Linked DNA regions of Homo sapiens. The protein of the gene in region 1 interacts with the protein of each later gene in a pairwise test. Each region holds a gene or a part of one and is shown on either strand. Other genes may lie near its edges. The genes, in order: TSPAN8, MEP1B, TIMM23 and STX2.

Region 1 (6,947 bases):
TTGTAATGGAGCTGATCTATTGTTTCATAAGGATACTTAAAGAAATACTAACTTATCACTGTTGGATAATATTAGTAACTTAACTCATCACTTGCAATCTGGTAAGTAAAGAGTGAGAAAGAAGTATTTTATGCCACTTAAAAAATATTAAAAATGGGATACCCAGGTAATTAAACAGTAAATGAGAAGTTTCTCCTTATAGAAAGTGTTCCAGCTAATAAAGAAAGAAAAGTTGATGAAACTAGAATATCATCACTTTGAACCACTTAATGAACTAATGATGGATTTTGGCACTTGACCATCAATGGCTACGAACGTCACAAAAGAGGGACACAATCAAACCTCCAGTGCCTCCTCATGAAAGAATACAAAATCACTTATGATTGTCGTGTGAAAAAAAAAGGACCTTGAATTGTATCAGGCTGCACCACAGGTATGCAAACAGCAAAATCCAGACTGTGGGCAATGTGATAAAACAAACAACACACACCAGTGCATAAAATTTCAGTAGGGAGAAAAAGAGATGTTGACTGAGGGAGAATCAACAGATTAAAATAGACATGAAACATATATTAACCAACCACACAGTGTGGACCTTATTTAGATCCTGATTCTAACAGGAACATTTATGAGGTAATCGGAAATTTCAGCCCTGAATGGGCTCAAATTTGACAGTTTGATTAAAATTGTCAAATCAATTTGACAATTGATTTAAAAAATTCTTATTAAATTTTTAAAGTGTAATAATGATATTGTGGTAACATTTTTTTTTTTCTGAGATGGAATCTCACTCTGTCGCCCAGGCTGGAGTGCAGTGGTGCGAGCTCGGCTCACTGCAACCTCCCCCTGCCAGGTTCAAGCAATTCTCCTGCCTCAGCCTCCCAAGTAGCTGGGACTACAGGGGCGTGCCACCATGCCCGGCTAATTTTTCATATTTTTAGTAGAGGCAGGGTTTCACCATGCTGGCCAGGCTGGTCTCAAACTCCTGACCTTGTGATCCACCCATCTCGGTCTCCCAAAGTGCTGGGATTACAGGCGTGAGCCACTGCGCCTGGTTGTGGTTACATTTTTTCAAGAATTATTATGTTTCAGAGATATATACTAAAATGCTTACAGACAAAATTATATATCTGAGATGTGCTTCAAAATAATATGGGGTGGGGGAAGTGAATACAGTAAAAATGGAGAAAGATTGGCCATCTTTCTGTGGCCACCTGGGCTGGCCAATGGAGTTGATTACCTATCCTATCTTCTTTAGTGAATATTCAAAGTTCTCCAAAAAAAAAAAAAAAAAACAAACAAAAAAAAAACTAGAAACAAAACAAAACCAAAGAATACAGGTCTTTCTTTTTTTGTATAACCTGCTCCCAATGTTTAATCAATTTAAGTATCTCAAGGGAAGAAATGTATCAGAACTAACTAAAAAACTGGCATATATGTAGCATGAGCTACATTAAATATTTGCAAAAGCAGCCCATTTTTTTAACCTAAAAACAGCAGCCCATTTTTTTTGCCTTCTTTATTTTACTTTTTTAAATATTTACTTACTTATTTAAAAGTCACCAATATATCCATTTGTACTCATTAGCACTACTGATCATTGAATGGAAAATCAGTCTATACAATAAAGCTGTATTCATGTAGTTAAGTTTAATTAAGTTCATCATTATTTTAATAGAACAGAAATATAGCAACACATAGGTATGAGATGTCTGTTTACTAAAGATCAGGTACAAAAACAAAACCAGAGTTCTTTCATCCTTGGAGTGGATAAGGTAGCTTTTAATCCAGTATACAAAATACTTTTTTCATTTAAATACTTTGTGCTATTTCCACTGATTGACATTTAAACAATCTTTAATTGTACCATATATGCTAAAAATGATAAGGTCAATGTCCCAACATCCCAGCCTGCTCTTTTCATACCTTGTTTTTCCATTATCTATTGATAGATATCAGTTATCAATTTGTTGGTTATGTCTATGTCAATGGACTTTCAAGAGAAACATAACAAATTGCTAAAATACAAATCCTGTCAATTAAAAGGTAGGGTGATGACACATCAAAATACTGACTTTAAAATGCCAATACATATATATATCCACGGTCTTAGTTTGATTTTCTTATGATTTAGGAATTTTATCATTTCCCCCTCAAGTTTTTCATGACCCATTTTTTTTGTCTTTGAGGCTCTGAAAATGATCTTTATTGTCCCACACCCTGCGATTCACCTGTTCAAACCCAGAAGTGAAGGGCGGGAATCAGGACCCGGGCTCCGGATGGAATCAGACCATGTTTTTACCACAGAGTCCTTAAATTAGGGAGGCCTGCTTGATATACAACTAAGGAAAATTGTCCTTTAATTAAGGGGCATTTGTGTTCCTCTGTGATTTTTTTTTGCAGCAATATGAAAACATTTATGAAATGTTTATCCTCACATTCTGAAGTGCACTTTTTTGAGTCCTTGGCTCATTTTCAATTACTGAAATAACCAAAGAAAGAACAAACAAATCCAAACAAGTACATGGAAAATACATTTTCCCCCTTCTCTTATTTCTCTAGTGTACAGTCTGTTCTTGTTTATGATATTTATATCAAGATCCCCTTTCTTGCATAAAATTGATAATTAAAAGGAAAACACTTACCCAGAACAAGAAGTTGAAGGTAAACATAGAATATTTTATACAGGCACTCACACCTGCCATTTCGGAAAAGGATTAGGAATCCAGATGCCGTGAATTTAACTATTCGTTACAGGCTTGTCCTGCAATATGCTCTGGAGCAACTTGCCTGCAGAGATTTCTGTATCCACGGCTTCAGAGCAGAAAGAGAAAGCAAAGAAGTAGAGGGAGGAATAAAAAGTTATTAAACTGGATAAAAAAATTAACCCACACATTTAAATATCGCAAAGGCTATTAACCCACACATTTAAATATCTCAAAGGCTATTAACTCACACATTTAAATATCGCAAAGGCTATCTCCAGGCAAGTATGTTCCTTTGCTTGTCATAGCTCCTGGGGCACTGGGCCAGGATATTTATGATCCTTTCTCAAAAACTGCCTCCTCTAAAGTAAACAGATATCAAGTGAAGGGAATGGCACTGGATCAGGCAAGAGAATGGCACAGTGCTACTAAGTTCTTGGCTTTCAGAAACCACTGCCTGACTTCCCCGCCCTCCATTTCAACTATGGGGAAATAAGGTTGTTTTGTTCTGAGTTAAATGGACATTGTATCTCTACTCATTTTTGCATTGCATTTTCTCAATACTACAAAATTCCTTCTAAATGCAATAAAATGCATTTAGAAATCTGCAAAATATCAAAGCTTAGACATAGCAACCTGTTATCATTAAACCTAGAATAGTAAAATAACCATTACATGTATCTGCCCTCCAAAACATCTAAATTTATTTCAAAAGAATTCCAGAGCTGCCGTAAATACACCACAGAAATTGCAGAGGGAGAGGCAGCCTTGCCTATCATGATAAGACCATTTGCTTTTTATCTTTATTTCTTTATGATACAAAGGGAAAGAAATCATAAAGTGGCACTGACTGCAACATTGTTTTCATTTTATAATGCGTAGTCATTCTGATAGCTTGGTTTGTTTTTAAGGTGGACACTGTAATTTCCTTCCTCTGATAAATTGTATCTAGCAACAGCTGTTCTCCACCAACTCAGTTTCTGGATTCCAGGTCCTCCCGGACAAAAAAATTCAAAATGGGAAGGTGGTCATGGATCAGTGACCATAGATTTTACTATTTGTTTCTAGTGCTAATAGAAGGCAGCTGTCTCAGGTAAAGGCAAAATGCTCCGACATCATCAGGGAGGTGTGGACTGCTTTGTGTAAACAGCCTGGGTCATGTTAGTTTCCACATCCTGCCTCTCAAAGGGAGTTCTTCTCCCCCTAAATAAAAGAACCCTCTACTTTAAAAGGTTGTTGAGAAAATTATTCTTTAGAATCTTTGCTAAGTTTTACACGATAAGCAAGCATGAACTCCTTACAAAAGAAAAATATTATTTCTAATTTTCACTGGCATACAATGTTTTTGAAACAATTCTACTCCCTGACTACAAATACAATATATTTTAATGCATTATCAACAATAATATATAGCGTTAAAGGCCAAATTTAGGATTAATTCCAAAAATAATGGCTTAATATATAAATCATCACTAAAATTGTTTGTGTTCTCTTTCCTACTAGAAAATGGATAGTTTCACAACCTTCTATTGAGATATTTTGTATATAGAATAATCCAAGGCTGAAAGAATAATTTCAGATTGAATGAAAACCAAAATTGATTCATAGTCCCAGAAATGATTATTTATCAGAGGCTAAAATTAAAAAAAAATTACAGATTTAAATGCTGCTTTGTTGAAAAGAATGTATTGAATACTACCAAATTTTAGTTTGAAATAGATATTTTGGTGGATGCTGAACATCCTTAAAAAGAATACTGTGTAGTCTTTAGTTGAATCACTCTTGAACTCTGTAACACAAAAATCAATGGATGTGTTTGTACAGGAGAATGACTGTGTAATAGAACCCCTAGTCTAATTCAAAACCTATATGAAACAGTTCACTCCTGGAAATTCCTATTCCTATTAATGTTATAATCACACAACACTCTCCCAGGCTGAATTTGTACAGATATTTTGTATTTCTCTTTCTTTCCATCCAATCACTCTTACTGGTCTGTGTAGCTCCTAAATTACTGTCAAAACTATTTCTTCCATCTCATCCTTTTGCATTTCATTATTCAGTCCTTTATCATTTCTTACTTGAGCTGTGTCAATAGAATGAGAATTAATTTCCCTGGCAGTTTCTCCCAGTTCCTCTCTGCCTTAGCACTTTAAAATTCTTTTTGAGAAATACTTATTGATTAGGTAATGATAATGATGAAAACCCAATCTAAGGATATTTTCCTTTTACCTACAAGATAAAGTTCAGATTCCTTAAAGTAGCATTTACAGCACACAGCAAACAAGTCCTCCACCCACTTTCCAGAATTTTGTCCCTCCCCTTTCTTCCTAGGCAGCCTCCACTTCTAGGCTCCATAACCACAGAATTATTTCCCAGGCCTAGAACACACCTTTGGATTTTATGCCTTGTTCCTTCTGCCTGGAATATCCTTTCCCACCTTCTCTATTGCAACATCCCTGTGGAGCCTTCCCTTCCTCATCCTCTGCCCCCACTCTGGGCAGATTTACTTGCTTCTCAGTCCTCAAGTCCATTATTATTTGAACAGACCTTAAATCTACAATTGCCACTATATCACATTTATTTGTGTCTCTCCCCCACATTTGATTCTATATGCCTGAAAAGCAGAAATCTTACCCTATTCACCTCTGTACCTACAGTAGCTGGCATTAGAGCTACAGAGATTTGCAATGGCAGCCAAGCTCCTCAGAAAGTTCAACTAGTGATTTCCTCATTAGGTTCTCTAGGGAACTACCAATATGCTACCTCTGCCTTTAAAAAATCTATTAGGTCAAGAAAAACAGTTTATTAATTTCAGGACTTGTCAGAGCCTTCAACTTTCTAATATTCAAGGAGGTGATATATAGCAATTCTGAAATGAATATAATCTCAGAACATATTTTTGAATGACATATTCAGGACTGGTGTTACAGAACACACATACGCACTTACAGAAGCACTGTTCTAGACAAACTCTCACTCTTACACCTGAGAAAAGAGCAGCATAGGCAGATTGAGTAGCCCAAGTTCACAAAACTGGTTAGATCTCCTTCTAGAAACAAGGTCACAGGATTATCAGATCAGTATTCTGTCTACTGGCGTCAACAATCTCTTGAGTTCTGTAGTATGAGAATGAGTCATTTACTCATTACTCATTTAACGTGTCTTAGATATTGAGAAATTTTCATATAACAGATATTTTAACAGTGGTGGGAGGTTGCAGGGGTTGGAGATTGTCAGTAATAAATCTTAGACCCTGTGAAAGACCGGGCCAGTAAGGAAAGAAATGGAGAGTGAAATATTATAAGAAGAAATGACAATCGAGGGAAAGAACAGAGGGAAAGTCTAAGTAAATTTAGATAAAGTTTTTCTAATGTTGCCATCATGCCAATTACTATTCATTGCAGCAAATGCACAGAGTAAGGCAGGATAATGATTCCAATTTGATTAATTGTGAAAAGTCTCCATGAGGCAGTCATCAGTGAACTAGATTTTGATAGCAGTATGGGAACCCATGCAGGGGAAAGAAAGAGAGAGAGAGATTCCTTATGCTCAGGGCAGAGGAAAGTGCATGAGTAGTACCATCAAATACCCCACAGAAAATATGGCATTTTCTCTAAGTCATCAGGCAAACCAGGCCTACGTTTGGGACTTGGACCAGAAATTAAGCATAGATAGTTCATATTTTCATCATGATATCATCTTCTCCTCCATAAGATAATATTCAAAAATTTATTCAACTGATGTATTGAATCCTTACCATATTCCAGGAATGAGACTAAGTGCTGGAAACATAGTAATTTATGAAACAAGATAAAAATCCCTGCCTTCCTAGGCCTTACACCATGGTGAAAAGGTAACTTCTTTGCCTTTTTGTTTCCAACATCTCGTTACCCGATATATTTGTCCATGGAATAGACAGTAAAAAAGCAATTCATGTGTGGTAGAGAAAAGATTATTTTTTTCTCTTGTCTTTTATACTCTCCCATTATCACTGTCCCTCTATACTATTTGTTTTTCATGACGTTGTTAATAATCAATTCATGTTCTCAAAGGCTAACAGCAGCAATAAAAACATAATGTTGAGATTTCTCTTCCTTATGACTGTACTGAGGGGTGTGTATGTAAGGACATGAGATCATACACTCTGAACAATTTGAGTGAAGAGATTCTGGTGCTTTTAGCATGTCTCATTTTGAAAAACCTTTTTTATTTTTGGAAAGTTGGAGTTCTCACTTAGGG
Region 2 (7,028 bases), on another chromosome or scaffold:
TCCTAACTATGGGCTGCAATAGAACCTTAGATATGTTCAGTGTGACTGCTGGTATCACAGTTCTAAGCTTGAATATTATATTGTAAGATGGGAATAATGAAACTGTTGTTAGTTGTAGCAAAAATTGCTTGAGTTTATTATATTCTCCATTTCTAAGTGAGCAGTATTTGGAGTAAGATAAGCTGAATTTTGTGAACATCAAGTAAAGATTTTTTATTTATCCTTTAGGCAGAGAGCACAATTTTAACACCTATAGTGACGATATATCAGATTCCCTGAATGTTCCCTATGATTACACTTCAGTAATGCACTACAGTAAAACTGCATTCCAAAATGGAACAGAGCCGACAATTGTCACAAGAATCTCAGACTTTGAGGATGTGATCGGCCAACGAATGGATTTCAGTGACTCTGATCTCCTAAAGTTGAATCAACTGTATAACTGCTGTATGTGACAGGTTCTTTGAAATGACTTATATTTTCCGCTGTTATGTAGGAAAAAATGATGGTCTGTGCCATTTTGTCAAGCATTGGTGGGGTTTCTGCGATTATAGAGATTTGATATTCAGGAAATAAACAGAATAGCACTCAGATCTCAATCTACAACTTGGAAGCAGCATTTTTCTTTTCACCACGTCTGGTGTTGAGATCTAAAAACAAATTGGGTCCTGTAGGAATATGCCTCAGGCAAGTTTTTAAAGCTGTTACTAATTCAAACCTCGGTCAGATTGATACTCACACTTCCTTTTAGCCAAAATGATATGTCTAGTTGTAATATGAATGGGATCAAATAATCTGGATTGTGGCTTAATGATTCGAATAACTAGGGGAGTATAGACTCAGGTTTCTACAAATTAGAAAATTTTTTTTAAAAAAGACTTCAGGCAGGGAGCTTATTCAGATCTACAGAATTCATTACCTTCTTTGTAGGGGTTCTGCAAATAAAGAGGGATCTTTAAGCCACCATCATCCAGAATCAGCTAGGTGTTCCCTGTAATACCAACCTGGCATTTCTAATACTGTGATAAGTTCAGTTTTTGTTACTTAGATTATCATGTTGTATGAGTGTCAATAATTGTTTTTTGCTTTTTGTAGCCTCTTCCTTGAGTTTTATGGACTCGTGCAGTTTTGAACTGGAAAATGTGTGTGGCATGATCCAAAGTTCAGGAGATAATGCTGACTGGCAACGGGTTTCACAGGTTCCCAGGGGGCCAGAGAGTGATCACTCCAACATGGGCCAGTGCCAAGGTAACAGGAGTGAGATATTCCTAGACTGTATACTCAGTGGCTACAGCCACATACTTCTCTATGAAAGAATGGGATTTTATCTCTAATTTCTATCAGAATTATTAATGATTATTCATTAGGTTACTACTGAGAAGTAGGCCTTGCACCTGATAAAGACATTGTTAATTTCTTTGCTTTTCCTTCCTGAGTTTATTTTTCTTTCTACAAGTCAGAGCTGGGCTCTGTGATGCCTCTACCAGTGCGTTCCCATAGGAGAGTGTACCAGACTGGGCCTCCTGCAAGGCCTCTTATCTCAGGGGCAGTACTATTGTTTCCTAGAAGTTTGCAGAATACAAGAGACTCTTTCCAATGGACAGCACTAGGCTGCGAATTATTGTTTCAGAACTGTAGCTGGATGTGATTATATGCTCCTGTTACAAAAATATCTAAAAAGCAGAGTTTATTTAATTTTCTTCAGATGCGTATCCTTTTCCATTTTCATTTTGTTTTGCCTTAAGTAGTTATTTGGCTACAAGGACCAAATTTTTACGTATTTGCTTATTCTGGCATCAAATATGTAAAACTAGACTTCAGAACTTAGGGCCAGTGCTTAATAGCTCAGATGATCTAGGCAGGAATTGGAGGCCTCTAATGGCAAAAAGGTGCTTTTCCTTTTATTTTTCTTTTTAAATGCATATTTGGATAGTGGATAGTGGTCCTACTCAGACCAGAGGAAAGTAGATAGGGAGGGAGGGGGAAAAGAAGAAGAATCCAGACCAGGTAGCTCTCACTTTTTTCTGTTTTTGAAAACTAATTTCTGTGGTAAGGGAAAGGTTCCCTAATGTTGTCTCTTTCATAAATCGCCTGCTCCTAGAACCATATTTAAATGCCCAACACAATTCCCTGCATATAGTGGAAACTAAGCGAATACTTGAAATAAGGTAAAGAAAATTGGGCCGGGTGCAGTGGCTCATGCCTGTAATCCCCGGCCTTTGGGAGGCCAAGGTGGGCGGATTACCTGAGGTTGGGAGTTTGAGACCAGCTGGGCCAACATGGTGAAACCCTGTCTCTACTAAAAATGCAAAAATTAGCTGGGTGTGGTGGTGCATGTCTGTAGTCCCAGCTAGTTGGGTGACTGAGGCAGGAGAATCACTTGAACCCGGGGGGCAGAGGTTGTAGTGAGCTGAGATCATACCATTGCGTATCAGCCTGGACAACAGAGTAAGACGTTGTCTCAAAAAAAAAAAAAAAATGAAAGAAAATATATATACACTCAAACCAGAATTACTAGCTGTGCCTTCTTTAGAGATGGCTTAGAAGGTTAAGTATTGCAGATAATGAAAGCAGATAAGTGGGAGGTGCCTCTGAAATTATCAGGTTCAGTTATTCTCAATTTTTTCATTACAAGTATCATTTTAAAAATATTAAAATGTGAATCTCCCCAGATGGTTGCTGTAGTTAACAATATCTTCTGAAAGTTGAATTTCTTTCTTCCTTTTCTTTTTTTCTTCCTTCTTTTTTTGTGACAGTTTGAAGCCAAAGAAGTTAGAAAGTGTTTAAAAAAAAAAGGGGGGCGGGCAGGTCAGCCAAGGCCCTGGTTTCCTGGCTGGACTCTCACCTCTGTCCGCAGTGTGTGTTCACCTTTCCAGAAAGACCTAGAAGTTCACGTTGAATTACCCTTGGGAGACACAGATGCTACAACTCTCTACCCACCCAAGTTTCAAACCCTCGTTTTGACTTAATTTCCATTTTCCTTTTTCATATTCTCAGCGGGGGAACAACCCTCTGTAGCATCTTTGTCCAATGGTAGCTCTTTCCACTTGGAGCTGGACCAGGGTTTTGGACACTTGAAAGGTGTCCCATGTAGAATCTACCTTTTAGCCCTGCTGTTTGGGCTTGACCTGCAGCCTTACAGTGGATTTTTAAAAAGTTAGCATTTGATACTTAAACTTGCTTTATCTTTATAGCTCATAACAAATGAAGATAAGCAAGGATTAGTGCCCACGGAAAACTACTATTGTAAGTAAACGTTTTATAAATAATAGAGAGGTTTGAGTTTTATACTGTTATGTCAATCTGCTAGCTTTTGCAAGTGCCAGATATGTAGCTTAGGCTTCTGTCATTTCTCCCTGGCGATTTATATATGGATGTTACTTATGCCTCGCGTAAAGAATCTAGCACCACCATTAACAAACACACATTCCTATACCCAGTATCTGTTTTTCTCTCAATTCTGCTTTTCTTTAACAGGTTCTGGTTTCTTCATGCATTTCGATAGCAGCTCTGTAAATGTGGGGGCCACAGCAGTGCTGGAAAGTAGAACGCTGTACCCTAAAAGAGGATTTCAGTGCCTGCAATTTTACTTATATAACAGTGGCAGTGAAAGTGATCAACTGAACATCTATATCAGGGAGTATTCTGCAGACAATGTGGATGGCAATTTAACCCTTGTGGAAGAAATAAAAGGTACAATGTCAACATCCTTATTGTCTGGATTTAAAATGAGGCAATCTTAGGTCTTTTCTTTAGTTAATGCAACAATTTACAATAGGGCAGGGGCTACTGAGTCACTATACTTCAACTAAGAACTAGATTCTTGTTTTAAGCTGTGGAAAGGAAGCTAGAATGAAGATTCTTTCTGAGTGCTCTGTTATGTAACACTCACTTAAGAAACTGTAGATCAGTCTCTGGCACTATGGAGGTCAGTTCTTGGCAAATAATAAAAATACAAGGCTGGGCGCAGTGGCTCACACCTGTAATCCCAGCACTTTGGGAGGCCGAGGCGGTCGGATCACCTGAGGTCACGAGTTTGAGACCAGACTGGTCAACATATAGTGAAACCTTGTCTCTACTGAAAAAATACATAAATTAGCTGGGAGTGGTGGCACACGCCTATAGTCCCAGCTACTTGGGAAGCTGAGGCAGGAGAATTGCTTGAACCCGGGAGGCGGGGGTGGCAGTTGAGCCGAGATCATGCCACTGCACTCCAGCCTGCGCGACAGAGCAAGACTCCATCTCTGAAAAAATAAATAAAATAAAATAAAATAAAAATAAAATACATAAAAATACAATGTGAACTAGCTTAGGCAAAATAGGATGGGCTCCTGGCTAAATGTTAGTTACAGCCTGTGGGACAGATGAGGGAGACACTGGCTTGAGGGGGAATTATTAATAGATCTGTCTCTGAACATTGCTGGGGACCTCTTGTTTTATCTCAGAATGGCTGTCTTTATAAGACTGGTACTTCGGTTGTTTCACTTCCCAGCTTACATTTGACCAAATTTGCTATCAGTCTGGAAAAAGGACTCTTCCTCTAATATAAAGCTTAAAAAATAAATCCCAGTGAAGAACTGGGATACTTATGTCTTAAGTTAAACACAGCTTCTGGAGCAATTCCTGAGTGGGAAATGGGTACCCACCCTTCATACCAATAATGTGTCAGAGAGGAGAGCCATGTTGACCACCTATGCAAGTAGATGGTTAAGGGGGTGACTGAGAAAGGGAGGGGCTGTGGGCTGGCAAATATATTACTGTCTATTCCACCTAATCATCTCATGACTTGAATGAATTGAGTAATTCAATTTGTTCCACAATTGGATCCATATTATGCAATATAGTATGCCATTTTCCTCCTGTTTTCAACAATGAGAAACAATCTGAAATACAGGCGATATTTTTCTTTGTGAACACCTGTAAGCAGTAAGGTTCTTAATCTCACTAAGCATATACACACATTATACATATATATTATTTATGTAACAATGTAAAATATATAAAGAATAATTATATATAATATATTATATATTACATATATAAAAGCCTTATATATAAGCCATATATGTTACTATAAATATTATATTTTATGTATTAATATCTAAATTAATACAAATATTGATATAATGTATCTGTAATATATATAATTGTCCAGGACTGGAAGGGGGGTCCTTCCTATTAGCAATCTGTGGGTTCGTCATTGATACACAATAACACAAAAAGGCACTTAAGAAGCTTGCTTATTTTCTGTCATTTGGGTATGTCTAGCTTATTTTCAAGTAACTGTGTTTCACATTAAGTGCCAACATATTTTTGTTTTAAGACTTTGTGTTAACCACTAGTTTGACATGAATTCCTCAGCTGTTGTTCATCTGGGGGCCTCTGCAGATTATTTAGTATACTGCTTCTTATTTGAGTATGTGATATAAGAAAATCAGACAGAATGGCATATTATGTGCTGCTAGCGAGGGGTATGGGCTAATAGTTGGGGAGGAAGTACAGGTTGGAAAGAAAGGAGGTGGTACCAAATATCAGATAAATACTTACAATGCTGAGTTACTGGGAAGTGATCTAAAGAGTAGATTGCAGGATGTAGGCTTTCTAGGGTTTGGTGGATTTTGTTTAATATTACCAAAAAGTTGATTGAAGACTTTGTATGTGAGGGAAGTATTCCAATCAAACTATAAATATATTAAAGAAGGCTTTGCCTGAGTATCACAGGAATCTTGAGTAGAAGTGTTACAAGTGTTGGGTTTGCTGGCCCTTTAATGGAGAATGGCAGGTAACTCATAGGTAGGGCATGAAGTACTCATGAGCTAGATGTTGTTATTTACTCACCGATCTCTAGGAAAGGGTGATCTATTTGAGAAACAGCTAGACAAACGTTCAGCTATTCCAGAGAACAGTGTGACCCCACAGAAGCACCTTGAAGTAAATAATTCTAGGCTGGAGCTTTGGCAAAACCATACTTCTGACCTGTAGAAATAAATCGGTTTTGGATGACCCTTTGTCTAAGAAGGCTAGAAATCTAATGTTGACATGTACATGATTTGAACTTCTTTGTCTTTGAAATAATAATGACTCTTTTGCAGAAATACCCACTGGGAGCTGGCAACTTTATCATGTAACATTGAAAGTGACCAAGAAGTTTAGAGTGGTGTTTGAAGGACGCAAAGGCTCTGGTGCATCACTGGGTGGTCTGTCTATTGATGACATCAATCTTTCGGAAACACGGTGCCCTCATCATATCTGGCATATAAGGAATTTCACACAGTTCATTGGCAGCCCAAATGGAACTCTGTATAGCCCTCCATTTTACTCTTCTAAAGGTTATGCCTTTCAGATTTACTTAAATCTAGCCCATGTGACTAATGCAGGGATATATTTCCACTTGATCTCTGGAGCCAATGATGATCAATTACAGTGGCCATGTCCTTGGCAACAAGCCACAATGACACTTTTGGATCAAAATCCTGACATTCGACAGCGTATGTCCAATCAGCGGAGTATAACTACAGACCCATTTATGACCACCGGTTCGTAACTCATTTTCTTTATTGCTAATAAACAATCATTGCTCTAGGAGGGACTGATAATTTTGGGAATGAGGGATTGCACAGTTAGTTACCTAGGGAATTTTGAGCCCCAAATCTTAAGAACAGATATTTAGGGGAAAGGTTTCAAGAATTGTGGACTGAGTCTGTCAGACAGGAGCTCATCACAAATGTCAGCAAGGACTCCAACAAATGCTGACTGTATTCCTAAGAACTGATGGCCCTTCTCAAATTTCCACTTCTGTGCAAGAAGTGTTGGTTTTAGAGTCTGACATGCCTGAGTTCAAGTCCAAAGTTTGCTTCTCATTAGTTATGTAATCTTGAGCAAATAATCTCTTAGGGCCCCAGTGTCCTCAGCTGTAAAGCCAGGGCTGTAGTAATCATTCCACAGATTTGCTATGAGAATTAGTACAGGTCAAGTGTGGAAGCTGTGGAAAGGCCTGCGGTGGAGAGGCCCTCAGATGTTGGGTTCTT
Region 3 (7,028 bases), on another chromosome or scaffold:
GGACACTCAGCTTGGTTTTCATTATTATCCTTTTAGGATACAGATGAGTTTATTTTACCTACCGGAGCTAATAAAACCCGGGGCAGATTTGAGCTGGCCTTCTTTACGATTGGAGGATGTTGCATGACAGGTGAGTGTTACATACTTTTTTCTCAAGAGTGCTCAGTTCAAGTAGTTGAGGGTGCGTAAAATCAAAAGCAATTAGAATGTTGGTTTCAGGGTTTTTTTTTTAATATTTACATTTGTCTTTTTCTATTAAATAAAAATGAAAAAGAATCAGAAGTGTAGTTATGCAGATTTGAGTTTGTTTTTTTAATATAAAGCTGTCTTTATCTGGGTGAATTGTTATGATTTACCAGGGGCTGCGTTTGGTGCAATGAATGGTCTTCGGCTAGGATTGAAGGAAACCCAGAACATGGCCTGGTCCAAACCAAGAAATGTACAGTAAGTCTCTTGTAACCATCTGATGTAGTGATACTTGAATATTAAGCTCTGTTGTATTGGTTTGATGAGTACAACCTTGAGATTACAGATGGTTAGCATAGTTATGTGCTTTTTTGTCTTTGTTTTTTAATCTTAATCAAAATAAAAGCAACTAAGGAATCAGATTACTGACTCTAAGCTTTTAAAAAGGAGTGATTTTTTTAATCAGTGTCCCTCAGTCAGCTAGTGCTATGCCAGCCTGACTTCTCAGCTGCACCTGTTACATTCTCCAACCCTATGTGACTTGCTTTTCAAATTGTTGAGTTGCTAATGGGAATTTTGGATTGTTTGGGGGCATGCAGATCCATAGGAAATGGTAATGAAGAATAAGCAGCTCATGAGAGTGATGGCTCAAGCTGCCATCATTTAACTTGAAGTTCTTACTGTCTTGACTTTATGTTTCCGAAATGATGAGCCAGATACATTTTAAATAAAATTTTTAGAATTAGAGTTAATTCCAAAAGGATAAGACACAGTTTTCTGTTAGAACTTGAAGTTACAGAGAAGGGAAAGTACAGTTAAAAGGATCGGAAAGTATGTTTTCACCCAACTTAAGAAGTAAACATGGCCAGTCCCTCTTGATATTCCTTAAACAATATGTTTAGTTTTGCCCATTTTTATGCTTCATGTAAGTGGAATCATGAGTATGTATTCTTCGATGGCTACTGTTTTGTTTTAGGACACTTTAAACTCCATCTTCCTTTCATATTGTTCAGCCAGCAGATGGCACCAGATGTGCTAGAATTAGACCATGGGAAACTGGAAGGCCTGTTAAATTGTGTGGTTTTTTGAGAGACAGGGCCTTGCTGTGTTGCCTGAGCTGGAGTGCAATGGCGCCATCACAGCTCACTGTAGCCTTGACCTCCTGGGCTCAAGTGATCCTCCCACCTCAGCCTCCCGAGTAGCTGGGACTACAGGCACATGCCACCATGCCCAGTTAATTTTTTAATTTTTTGTAGAGACGGGGTCTCACTGTATTGCTCAGGCTGTTCTCAAACTCCTGAGCTCAGGTGATCCTCTTGCCTCAGCCTTCCAAACTGCTGGGATTACAGATGTGAGCCACTGCGCCTAGCCCTGTTAAGTTTTTTATATTCCTGTTACTGTGTGGATCTCTGTCCATGCTTTACCAGCCTAGATCCTTCAATATTTTTATTACTTGTCCCTCGCTTCAATAATATTTTTAAGTTTTTGTATTATGGGGAATTTTGAATATATAAAAGTAGACAAAATACATAGCATAGTGAACACATGAACCATAACGCATCCTCAACAACCATCAACCATGGCCAGTTCTATCCCATTTCCTTCTCCTCTCCCATCTTATTTTGAGACAAAAACCCCAATATCATATTAAATACAAATTTGGAAGTAGATCTCCTAGAAAAGACAACTTGCTTCCTTTCTTAAAACAAGTTATTAAAATGCTTGTTAAAAATGAAAAAATGATGGCTGAACTTAAAATATGTTAGTAAATATGTAACATAATTAGAAACAATATACTTCTGTTTGTAAACATTACTGATTTTTTAAAACAATCTTTTAGAAAATACAAATTTTTGTTTCTGTAGAACATTAATTGAGTCGTTTAATAATTAAACTGAATGAGTTCCTTCACTCTTTGTTACTGTATTTCCATAATTTCCAGCAGTAGTCAGCTGTCTGGACAGAACCATTCCTGGGATCATGTTACACTGCTGGGAGAAGAATGTCTTCTCTTCATCCAGTTGCGTCCATCACTGTTCTGGTGGTGTCTGGCACTGGTGCAAGGCAGAACTGTGCTTCCTTGAGAGTGTGCTGAGCATTCACCTTGGCTGCTTGGTTCTAGTCTAGGAGCAGACACAGGGTGCTTTCCCCATGTATTCTAGTTAGATGGCTGATTCCTTCTCTTTAATTCTACTTTATATTCTGTACTTTGATATTCTTTACTTTATATTCTGTACTTTGATATTCTTTACTTTGATTATCTTTAACATTCTAAGCATATGTTCCCCTCCCAAAAAGAACCTTTTAGAAGCTAGCTCGCCATAGTTAACAGTGGCATTTTTTACATAGATTAGTTTCTGTAAACCTCTGTAAGATACATTCCAGGCTGTCATTCAAAGCCTTATATATATTTAATGTGTATTCATTATATTATACATTTAATAATAAGAGTTTTCCTTATTATTATTATTAAGGACTTATATAAAAGTCCTTAAGACTTTTGCCTAAAGTTTTGAAAGTTTTAACCTAATTTTCACTTATGTAGAGTAAAAACCATCCTTATTGAAATCGGAGATATTAAGATGTATTTTAGAATTTAAAAAACTTTGCGCCCTGGGTCTAGACATGTTAAATAGCCATTATTGTTTTTAAAGGTTACTAGAGAAATAATGATTCTAAATACAGATTCTTTCTCTTTCTGCCCTGATAGGATTTTGAATATGGTGACTAGGCAAGGGGCACTTTGGGCTAATACTCTAGGTTCTCTGGGTAAGTAGAGATCTCATTTGATAATAAATTGTTAAAGAAAGAATGCACAAATATCATGAACAATTTGATCAACCCATATTCTGGTCCTAGGATATGAGACAATTATGTTTAAACCCATTCCAATGCATAATGTAGATACTACTTAGGGAAAGACCATGAACTAACTTATGAAATAATCTCAGGTGCTAATACCGTTCTGAATACCATTGCTGAATTTTTAAAATCTTTTGGACACTGCACACTCTCCTTTCCAAGCACAACACCCAATAAAATCATGTTTAAATGAAATCCAGGTAATTTAGGTCCAAAGTAAAGAGCTTTGTATGTTAGGCAAGGTTCAAGGTCCTGTAGTGATACATGATAAATTAATCCAGCCCTCTTGCTATGTTTTCTTAATAGCCGGTTCATTAGTCTGTTTACCTGAGTAGATTTCAGGCACCTAATTGCCACAATTGGAATAGGTTCCTTGTAGATAATGAAAACGTTTGCAGTTCTAGGCAAAAGGTAACTTAGTAGTGCTTAGTCAGAGCCTTATGCTTTCATACCATATTGTTTATGAATGATTGATCACTTACAATAGATCTCTTATGGCTTATGTCCTGACATCCAAAATTTTCCTACTGTATGAACTTAGTTGAAAATCTCAATTTAAATTGTGGCAGATTAAGGAGGGGAAGACATAGAAAACTCATTGAAAACATAGAAAAAGCGTTTGTTATGGCAGGGTAAGGTCCTGCCTTGTCACAGAATTTGGAAGCAGTACATCTTCACACTGTAAAGCTAGTTTTCACACTTTGGATCCTAAGAGATGGCTGCTTTCATATGTTGCTGATGTCTGCATTCCTCCCACCCTCCTACAGAGTCACCCCGCTCTGTTTCTTTTAATTGCTTGTATACCTAGAGTAGTCAGCTGTCCTTGTCTGCGTAGGACTGTCAGAGAAAAGTCCAAGAAACTATGTTCCAATAATCACCCCCCGCCCACCCCGCCCCACAGTCCTGGACAAACTAGAATGGCTGGTCACCCTCTGTGTACCCATTGTGGTATGATCAAGAAGGGTGTTCTGCTCGTGATCAGTTTCAGTTAAATAAGTTGAAGAGGAAGATGAGCTTTCATAGAAGTATAAAAATACTGCAGTAGAGGAGTTGTAAGGCTGAGCGCGGTGTATTGTTGCAAGGGGCAAGTGTAGCTATAATTTTGAGAAAGAGTTTAAAAGTTTAACATTCGTTCCAGATAGGAATCTGCAAGAGCATAGAAGGATGGCTTGGGGGAAGATACTTTAAAATGAAATGGTGCTAGTGTTATAATACGTGAGAATCAAACCTCACTTTTTTTTTAATCTATTTTTTCTTATACTAGAAATACGTGTGTGTGTGTGTGTGTGTATGTGTGTGTCTTTAATCTGAAGTATAGCAATTATGGGTAGCATATAAATGAAAATTTTAAATATTCTTCCTGAGACTTCCTAGCGGTACTTTCTAGAAATAGCTACTATTGATGTTTCTTCTGAATTCTTCCAGGCGTTTCTCTGCATAGCCAGTCAGTCGTGTACCATGTGCACATGTCCCTGATTTACTTATTAGTGAAAATGATTCTTCTGGTTTTTAAGTGACTGTATAGTATTCCATTATATGAAAAGTCCCTCTCTGGATCAATTCAGATGGTACAAATGCTCTTGATGGGCATTTTATTTGTTGCCAGGTGTTTGCTATTAGAAACTGTTCTAGTGATCATTCCATGTATATCTTTGGATAAATTTTTCTAAATATAATTGCCATACTGACTTTTGTGTTGAAAAAAAAAAAACAGTTTTTCCTCTGCTCTCACACTACAACAGTCAACATAGGATAGTTCTGTGACCAGTTATGTGGGAATATTTCCCCACATACCAAGTAATCTCTCTTGCAGTGGACACCAGTTGGGTGTCCACCTGTTTCACTTCTGCCTGGAGATAGCATTAGATCAGCAGGTTGAGCACTCTGTCCCACAAAACTGAGCCCCACTTTGGATACTTCTGATGCTGATAGCAAGCTCCAGGTTATTTTACCTGTGCTTCTGACCAACCAGCTTTGTCAGGGTTTCCCACAACCCACTCTTTGGGTTTGATTAATTTATTGGATTGGCTCACAGAACTCGAGGGAACACATACTTAACATTTGCGTATTTATTATAAAGATTTTTTTTTTTTTTTTTTTTTTTTTGAGACAGGGTCTTGCTCTGTCACCCATGCTAGAGTGCAGTGGAGCTCACTGCAACCTAGACTTCTGGGCTTAAGCAAGCCTCCCACCTCAGCCTTTCAAGGAGCTGGGACTACAGGCAACATGCACCACCATACCAACTAATTTTTTTTTAAATTTTTTTAGAGAAGGGGGTATCCCTATGTTGTTGCCCAAACTGGTCTCTGACTCCTGGGCTCATGTGATCTTCCCACCTCGGCCTCCCAAAGTGCTGGGATTACAGAAACTTTGTGAGCCACCACACCTGGCTGGATATTTTTAAAGGATACAAATAGCCCAGTCAAGGAATACATAAGGTGAGGCCTGGATGGGCCCTGAGTGCAGGAGCTTTCATTTCACTGGAGTTGGGGTGCACTAGCCTCCTGACACGTGGGTGAGTTCTTTCTCACTTTCCTGCAAGTCCCATGAGTTCAGCTGTCCAGAAAGTCCTCCGACCCCATCCACTTGGGCCTCATGTGGAAAATTGATTGGATAGGCATGACTGAAGCATGGACAACCTTATAGAACTGTGATTGGACAAAAAGGGCATGCTCTACTACTAATAGACTGGGCACAGAAACCCAGCAAGGCCTGCCTGCCCAGATTCTCCCTTGGCCTTTCTGTGCAGCATTTCTTCTTCCTGGGTATGGGGTACGATCTTTTCTGAAATGGGGGTCTTACAGCCTGCAATCAGACAAGGTAGGTCATAGAATTTCTTTATGGCCAGTTCCAAGACAGAAAGGTGTGGGGAAAGATTAGAGTCCTGCTGTGGGGAGAAAAGGGAGTAGGTGAAAGGAGGGCAGGAGAAGGTCAGAGAGAGAGATTCTGTTTCTGAGGCTGCTTCTGAGGCCTGAAGTGCCCCAGTAATACAACAAAAGACCTTCACCTTTGTCCCTCTGAAGCTGTTCCAAAGCTGATTCCAGAACCAAGGACAAATACCTTAACAAGTGATTGTTTTAGTCACTTAGGAAGGGCTATGGGAGTTATGAGCTAGGAACCATGGATGAAAACCAATATATGTATATCATAATATCACACTTTATCACTGTTTTGTCACTGAGCACTTCCATTTCCTCTTTAGCTTTGCTCTATAGTGCATTTGGTGTCATCATTGAGAAAACACGAGGTGCAGAAGATGACCTTAACACAGTAGCAGCTGGAACCATGACAGGCATGTTGTATAAATGTACAGGTGAGTACTGTTGAATGGGGAGCCATCTCTTAATACACTTGAAGTGCGCTTTTTAAAATTCATGGTTTTCAAGGAAATTACACTCTGTTGCAGTATAATCTAGTGTTCTAACTTTATGGTTATTTTGGTTTGGTTTGGTTTTTAATTGTGGTAAAATAAACATAAGATTTACCCATCTTAACCATTTTTAAGTATACAGTACATTAGTATTATAGTCACATGATTATATAACCAATCTCTGGAACTTTTTCATCTTGCAAAACTGATACTCTGTACCTATTAAGCCTCCCAATTTACCACTTCCTTAGCTCTTGATAATGTTACACTTTCTGTCTCTGAATTGGCTGCTTTAGGCACCTCATATAAGTAGAATCATACAATATTTGTCCTTTTTTGATTGGCTTATTTTACGTAGCATAATATCCTCAAGGTTCATCCATGTTGTTGCATGTGCCAGAATTCCCTTCCTTTTTAAAGCTAAATAATATTCATTCTGTGTATGTATACCACATTTTGCATGTGCGTTCTTTTATCAAGGAATATTTGGGTTGCTTCTACCTTTTGGCTATTGTGAATAATGCTGCTACGAATATGGATGTACAAATATCTCTTCAAGGTCCTTCTTTCTTTTTTTGGATATATGTGCAGAAGTGGAATTCTTGGATCA
Region 4 (7,028 bases), about 60 Mb from region 1:
TGACGTGACTCGATTTCATTGAGAGCTTGTCTAGTAATTTGTGAATCTGATATAATCTTGGAAAAACAAAAATAAAAGATAATATTAATAAACTTATGATGGGTTTGGAAGTTAAAGGGTTTTTAAAAAGCTCTGTCTACAGAAGAGGACATGGAGCCACAGGGCCGCACCCCCACTCACGTCGGAAGTGAAGATGGATGGCTTCCCGCTCTCCAGCATCTCTTCTAGCTCGTCGTCTGTGGTGGTTCTCCCAGCTGAAAGACCCGCAACCACAGCCCCACTCAGAATGCAGCACAATTTAAAAACAAAGCCATTTGCAACCATAAGTTAGCAACTACAATCATAGTTGTTAGCATTTTTCAGTAATTTTTTTAACCTTTTCTTAAGCAGATATTGACAATGAGAAGTGAACCTAAGATTGAGGAGCAAGAAGAAATAAAAATACTCCGAGAAACTTTGTAAATGTTATAAACAATAAAATTTCATTTTAATATTAGTGAGAAACAACTGCAGAAAGGAAATCGGTAAACAATGTCTCGGCACACTGGTTTCCCTAAGAGTTTAACTCCGCCTCATGTAAAAGGGGGTTGAGCTGAATGTAGCATGTATTAAATGAGGATCAATAAAGTCCACGTAATGAGAGTCAGATGCCTGAACACTTTCCATGTTTGGAAGTTAATGCTTTCCTTTTGAGTTAAATGTGTAATGACTTCGAAGAAACATGTACACAGGTTTTGGAAACCTAATTGTTAATTACTATTTTTCATAGTTTGTGCCACAGAAGACAAAAGTAAATGAATAAATGTCATAATTCAAATGTCATCTAATAAGCAGCATTATTCATAATTGCCAAAAAGTGGAAACAACGCAAACGTCCGTCCCCCGATGCCTGAAGGAGCTAACTGCGGTCTAGCTGCACACTGACATACGACTCAGCCACAAAAACAAAGGACGCTTTTGGTTTTTGTCGCTTTGTTTTTTGAGACAGGGTCTCACTCTGTCGCCCAGCCTGGAGTGCAGGGGCACCGTCGCAGCTCACTGCAACCTCTTCCTCCCGGGTTCAAGCAATTCTCATGCCTCTGACCCCTGAGTGGTGGGGACTACACGCGTGCGTCACCACGCCCGGCTAATTTTTGTATTTTTAGTAGAGGTGGGGTTTCACCATTTTGGCCAGGCTGGTCTCGAACTCCTGACCTCAAGTGATCTGCCCACCTCAGCCTCCCAAAGTGCTCGGATTGCAGGTGTGAGCCACCGTACCCAGCCCTTTTTATTTTTTTAACAAAGATACGGTCTCACTCTGTCACCCAGACTGGAGTGTAGTGGTGCAATCTCAGCTCACTGCCGCTTTGACCTCCTAGGCTCAAGCAATCCTCCTGCTCCAGCCTCCCAAGTGACTGTGATTATAGGCACACACCCATGCCTGGTTTATTTTTATTTTTTTTTACAGAGATGGGGTTTTGCTATGTTGTCAAGCTGGTCTTGAACTCCTGGCCTCAAGCGATCCTTCCACCTTGGCTTCCCAACCAACACGCTGGGATTAGTATACATGTGAGCCACCACACCCTGCCCACCCCATGGTGAAACCTTGGAAAAACTGTGTTACAGGAAAGAAGTCAGTCACAGAACACATAGTGTATAATTCCATTTATATGAAACATCCAAAATGGGAAAATGTACAGGAGTAAAAAGTAGAATGCAGTTGTCTTGGGCTAGGAGAGGAAATGGGGAATGACTGGTGGTGGGTGTGAAGTTTCTTTTTGGGTTGATAAAAGTGTTTTAAATTGATTGTGTGTGGAAATACACCAAAAACCACTGAATTAATTGTATGCTCCAAATATCATTCACATATTAAGAGATTTACTTCTCAATAAAGTTGTTGAGATGTCATTTAATGAAAAAAGTTTTAAAGTTAGTAAATTGCAAAATTTGTTTACTTACACTATTTTTTGGGAGGTAATTCTCAATCATTTAAAAATCTATTTGAGAGCACACATGGTGGTTTACATGTATAATCCCAGTGCTTTGGGAGACCAAGGTGGAAGGATTGCTTGAGGCTAGGAGTTTGAGACTAGCCTGGGCAACACAGCAAGACCCTATCTCTACAAAAAATAAAATAAAACTTAAAAATCTATTCAAAATAGCTCAATAAGGAGATTCTCTGAGTTTTGCTTTGCTTTTTTAAAAACATGAAACTTGTTCTAAATAATGTAAAATATAATCATCAAAACTAGAAATTTCAGCTTGGGCAACATAGTGAAAACCTCGTCTCTACAAAAAATAAAATTAGCCAGGTATGGTGGTGTGCTTCTGTGGTCCCAGCTACTCGAGAGGCTGAGGTGGGAGGATCCCTTGGATCCAGGAGTTCAAGGCCACAATAAGTGGTTATCACAACACTGCACTCCAGCCTGGGTGACAGCGTGAGGCTCTCTCTCAAAAAAAAAAAAAAAAAAAAAAACAAACTAAAAGTTACAGTTCATGTCTCACGTTCACAAAGGTCTTCCCACCGGCTAACTGCTAAGTCTAAGAAACAGCCTGGGGTTACAGAATGTGAAATGCAGTATACATTCGTAATTCCTTATCCAGAATGCTGAAATCCACAACATTATGAAAACTGGGTTTTCCTTAAGCTCGATGTCAAAATTCAATGAGCGGCAAAATCTGACCTAAACTGAGTCATGGCTATTTATAATCTTAACTCCTCCCCCTTACTGTGAATACTCACATTTCACTGGAGAGCTGTGTGAATGTGCCTGATTACAGGGTGCAGTCCTAGACCCCACCTGGGGATTACATAATACACCTCTTATACATTGTACTATCTTCCTAAAATCTGAAAAATTCTGAACTCTGAAACACATACAGCCCCAACCATTCCAGAGAAAGCACTGTGGACCTATGTAACATGCCCTGGTCCAAGAAGAAACTCACTTGCCATTTGAAGAAACAAAGCATACAGCACAGGAAAAGATATCCTGTGATACAAGGTAAGAAACCTGCCTGATGACAGGGCTGACGGAAGGAAGAAAGAAAGGGGACAAAATGGTTTTAGGTGCAAGGATTTGGAGAAGACCACTGTATGAAGACAGCCCGCTGTGTGGCCAGAGTGACGCCATCCTGAAGCAAAACCACCGTGATGACCGATGCTCGACTCGTGCATGCCAAGCTGTTCTGCAATGAGGTCTGAAGACGATGCCTCCGGCACAGGCAACCTCTCATCAAGATGCTCATCCAGCCTGACCAGTGGTCCCAAGTGTTGTCAAGCAAGTCAGAAGACAGGGCCGGCTGCACACGTTCTACCCTGAAAGCCTGCTGTATAAAGAACACTTTCTGAGGGCAGGCGGCTGTGGGGTCCACCGTCTCTGTCTCTCGGGGGCTTCTGTTCGTACGTCCCTAGCCAATGTTTCCTTCGAGAAACTGGATTTGTTAGCCTCTTTCTTTGGCGTCTCAGCTCGCTCAGCCTTTGGGGGTGAGTTTGCATAGACCTGCTCACTTCGGAATAGCCACATGGAGGGTTTAGAATTTAACAGACTTAAAGGAATTACTAAAAAAAACTCCCAACACGTATATGATACTTCATTGCTTATAAGACACTTTCACAAACAGTACTGCATTCGATAGAGTATGATTGCAAGAGAAGAAACTGGAAATGAATTCTGTGGGCTGAGATAGAATAATGTGGGAAAGAGAGAAGAGACTTAGGCGATCTGATCACGCCACCGGATTCACATGGGGAGTGAAGACAGGATGGACCTGCAGGAGAGATGGTGCGGGGCCTTCAAGCCCAGGCTGGGGAACTCTGTGCTAGAAAAGCGCTCACCACAGAGTCCCAGAGCATAAATCCTCACAGTGCAACCGGCTGCCTGTAATGATGACTTTCACTTTAAAAAGTACTAACAGATCCCTGAAGTCAAAGTGGTTTGTAAAAACTTTTTCATAGAAAAGCAGTCTAGTCGACATCATGATTGAGCATTTCTGCCAGGATGGAGCAACAGGGACCGTATTTTCCCTGCCACTTGAAATAACCACAAACCCACCAAAATCTACAAAACGATTTCCAAGACACTGAGCATCAGGCCACACACTGATTCCCAACAGATGGAAACAAGCCAGGTGAGCCTGCTGCTGCCCTCAGACGGAACTCTCGTGTCAGCCACAGAGCAGAAAGGGCCCAGGTGGAGCCCAGGGGAAGTCCTAAGGCAAAGGCACAGAGCTCAGGGGAGACCAAGGCAACTGGATTTGCAAGATGGAGTATGAGAGATGAGAGAGATGCAGAGAGCGAGCTGCACAGACCCCGCATGCTCACTGGAGTGCTGACCAGCATGCCAGAGGGAACACGCTGCCAGGCAGACGAGGGTGCCATGAGGTTCACGGCCATCAGAGCAGGTGCTCAGAAGGGTCTTACCTCAGGAGTGAGGAATGACAGGCCCTCAAATAAAGCTGCTCTGCTCCCTCTAAATGCAAGATCCCAAAGGCTAAACCATGCTCATGTGATTTAACTACATTCTAAAACAAAGCCCAAGGAGATTTACAAAAATACTCAAAATACAGAAATACTCAGCACCCAACAAAGTAACGTTCACAATGTCTGGCACACACTCGAAACTTACCAGGCTCGCAAAGAAGCAGGAAAACACAAGCCACAGAAAGGAAGGAAATCAACCAACCAGAGCAGACAGGACACTGGAGTTGGCAGACAAAGACGGTTCAAGTTACTACAAGTGCGTCCCAGTTGTACAGTGGGGAGCAACACAGCAGACATGTAAAACACCCAGCAGAACTAGCAACAGAAACCAGTGTCTCCGATGAAACATACACCAGAGGAGGTTAAAGGCAGATCAGACAAGCAAGAGAAACTGACCAAAACCAAACACACTGGAAAAGAGTATCTAAAACATGAGGAGCCTCGCTGAGCTGTGGGACAAGGTCAAGCGGCCTGGCGGGCATATGACAACATTCTCTGAGGGGGATGTGCGGCGTTGGGAGCCGGGATGGGCCTGAGGCTTCATCTGACCTGCGAGCTGACACGCTGGCCTGCCAGGGCTCCGTGGGGGCCGGCAGAAGGTCCAAGGCCCCAGGTCAGGGACAAAGGGATTTCCTACTCACAGCACAGCAGGCAACCTGAGGCTCATGAGCAGCTGTCCACGGCCCCCAGTCTCATGGGGAGAGGCAGAGCAGCTGCAGTGGGACGTCCTCACAGTGGGTTTGTGTCACAGCTGAAGGACCCGAGCTTGGGAACCCCAATCTTTCACAATGGGGAGTCTACAAACCTGACCAACCTTTATCCCTGAAACAGACCCGTCTGTCCCCGAAGAAGGCGCCATCTCCACTGCCACAGCCAACTGTCCCCATAGACACCCCTGAAAAGAGTCTGGGGCAATAGGGCCGCTGCCTCTGCTCACAGACAAGGAGAGATGTGAGGAGCCATGAAGATGCCCCCGAACCAGGGCAGGGCGGGACTGAGGACACAGAAACACTCAAAGAGGAAATGACTGAGCACTCTCCCAATCTCCCTGAAACTCTAAAAGCAACAGCAATGAGCAAGGTAAACCCCACCGCTTAGGACTTCCTGAAGACAGGAAGAACAGGTTTGCCTGACTCACGGCATAGGAAGCTACGAGTGGTCTTTGGGTTTTACACTATTGGTGAAAATAGACATGGATTTCCTTTTCTGAAGTTAAAGTCATTTGAAGTGAGACCTTAAGGGAGAAAAACATGATTTTAACAAAGACGGAGTCTCCATTACTCACTTATCTCCAGCTGGCGCTGGATGCGGCCTTTGCTCCGCTCCCGAAACAGAGTCTGTGCCTCATTGTACTCCGCCATGGCTTCCACAAACTTCCGAGACAGCACCGAATGCTAACAACACAGGAAAACTACATTCGTATCTGAGGGCCATGCCTTCTACTGAAAGTGACATGCAAGACATGCATTTTGGAAACTCAAACTACATGTTATTCTGCTCCTGCAAATGGAAAATGACAATGGCAAAGTCCCCATGGCAGCATCTGTGCTAAGAACTTTGCATGCATGATCTTACCTAATTTTTACAAGACCCCTACTATGCCGGTCACAACCCTACTTAAAGAAAACCATGACTTTGAGGTCATTAGCCCAAGGTCACAGGCTTTTCTGATAAACACAGATCAGCACTGGGACCCAGGCAGGTGGACCCCAGAGCCCGCGTGCTTCATCGCCTTGTGCCCATGAGGGGACCCAGGCAAGCGGACCCCAGAGCCCGCGTGCTTCATCGCCTTGTGCCCATGAGGGGACCCAGGCAGGCGGACCCCAGAGCCTGCGTGCTTCATCGCCTTGTGCCCATGAGGGGACCCAGGCAGGCGGACCCCAGAGCCCGCGTGCTTCATCGCCTCGTGCCCTCGAGGCCTCAGGGCTCTGTCTTCCTCTGGGCAGTACCACAAACCACTAAAACGTGGCGGCCTTACCACAAACACTAAAATCATTTGGATAATTCCCTACTCTTTGGAATAGAACTCTGTTGATGGACCGAATAGATTTTTCTTCACAATAAAGAGATTTCTATAAATACTGTGAAAGGAAAATAAAATCGCAGGACCTCACACTCACTATCCCAAAGGGACAGTTAAGCTTGGGAACTGAGTCATGCAAAACACTGCCCTCCCTCCTCTTCTCAAACAGATGGCTGCAGTGACAGAAGGCCGCACATCGCCCCAGCAGCCTCCTGCACAAAGTGCTCACAAGGAAATTCCTCGTAGGTCCCAGAATCTTTCAGAATCCATATCCCCCCCACCAAAAACTAACTCTAAAACAGAGTTCTGCAGAATCTCACCCTGACAATGTACATTAGCCGCTTACCTTCACAGGTACAGGACAAAGACAAGACTAGAAGTCACCCTCGGCCCACCCTGAGAAATGCATGTATAGCTCCTCCCTCACCTCAGGCTCACACTGGCCCACGTAAGAGGCGGATCTGGGCACGGGAGGAGTGCAGAATCGACCCCCACTCCTCTCTTCCCACATGTGAAATGTGAACGCAGTGAGCCCTGAGCAAA

The links.
Region 2: the proteins of TSPAN8 (region 1) and MEP1B interact in binary tests that used the Homo sapiens proteins (3 or more experiments, as listed by UniProt).
Region 3: the proteins of TSPAN8 (region 1) and TIMM23 interact in binary tests that used the Homo sapiens proteins (3 or more experiments, as listed by UniProt).
Region 4: the proteins of TSPAN8 (region 1) and STX2 interact in binary tests that used the Homo sapiens proteins (3 or more experiments, as listed by UniProt).

What each region holds. Positions count from the first base shown.
Region 1 is NC_000012.12:71,154,974-71,161,920, forward strand, and holds the start of TSPAN8 (tetraspanin-8), read right to left. Parts: upstream 3,027-6,947; 5' UTR 2,957-3,026; intron 2,837-2,956; exon of another isoform or gene 2,815-2,836; 5' UTR 2,706-2,814; coding exon 2,646-2,705; intron 1-2,645. UniProt on the Homo sapiens protein: Structural component of specialized membrane microdomains known as tetraspanin-enriched microdomains (TERMs), which act as platforms for receptor clustering and signaling.
Region 2 is NC_000018.10:32,207,024-32,214,051, forward strand, and holds part of MEP1B (meprin A subunit beta isoform 1 precursor), read left to right. Parts: intron 1-228; coding exon 229-447; intron 448-1,095; coding exon 1,096-1,248; intron 1,249-3,477; coding exon 3,478-3,693; intron 3,694-6,092; coding exon 6,093-6,536; intron 6,537-7,028. UniProt on the Homo sapiens protein: Membrane metallopeptidase that sheds many membrane-bound proteins. Exhibits a strong preference for acidic amino acids at the P1' position. Known substrates include: FGF19, VGFA, IL1B, IL18, procollagen I and III, E-cadherin, KLK7, gastrin, ADAM10, tenascin-C.
Region 3 is NC_000010.11:45,982,487-45,989,514, forward strand, and holds part of TIMM23 (mitochondrial import inner membrane translocase subunit Tim23), read left to right. Parts: intron 1-36; coding exon 37-130; intron 131-359; coding exon 360-444; intron 445-2,121; exon of another isoform or gene 2,122-2,325; intron 2,326-2,896; coding exon 2,897-2,955; intron 2,956-6,250; coding exon 6,251-6,361; intron 6,362-7,028. UniProt on the Homo sapiens protein: Essential component of the TIM23 complex, a complex that mediates the translocation of transit peptide-containing proteins across the mitochondrial inner membrane.
Region 4 is NC_000012.12:130,801,235-130,808,262, forward strand, and holds part of STX2 (syntaxin-2), read right to left. Parts: intron 5,857-7,028; coding exon 5,748-5,856; intron 3,310-5,747; coding exon of another isoform or gene 3,266-3,309; exon of another isoform or gene 2,859-3,265; coding exon of another isoform or gene 2,723-2,858; exon of another isoform or gene 2,419-2,722; intron 255-2,418; coding exon 181-254; intron 57-180; coding exon 1-56.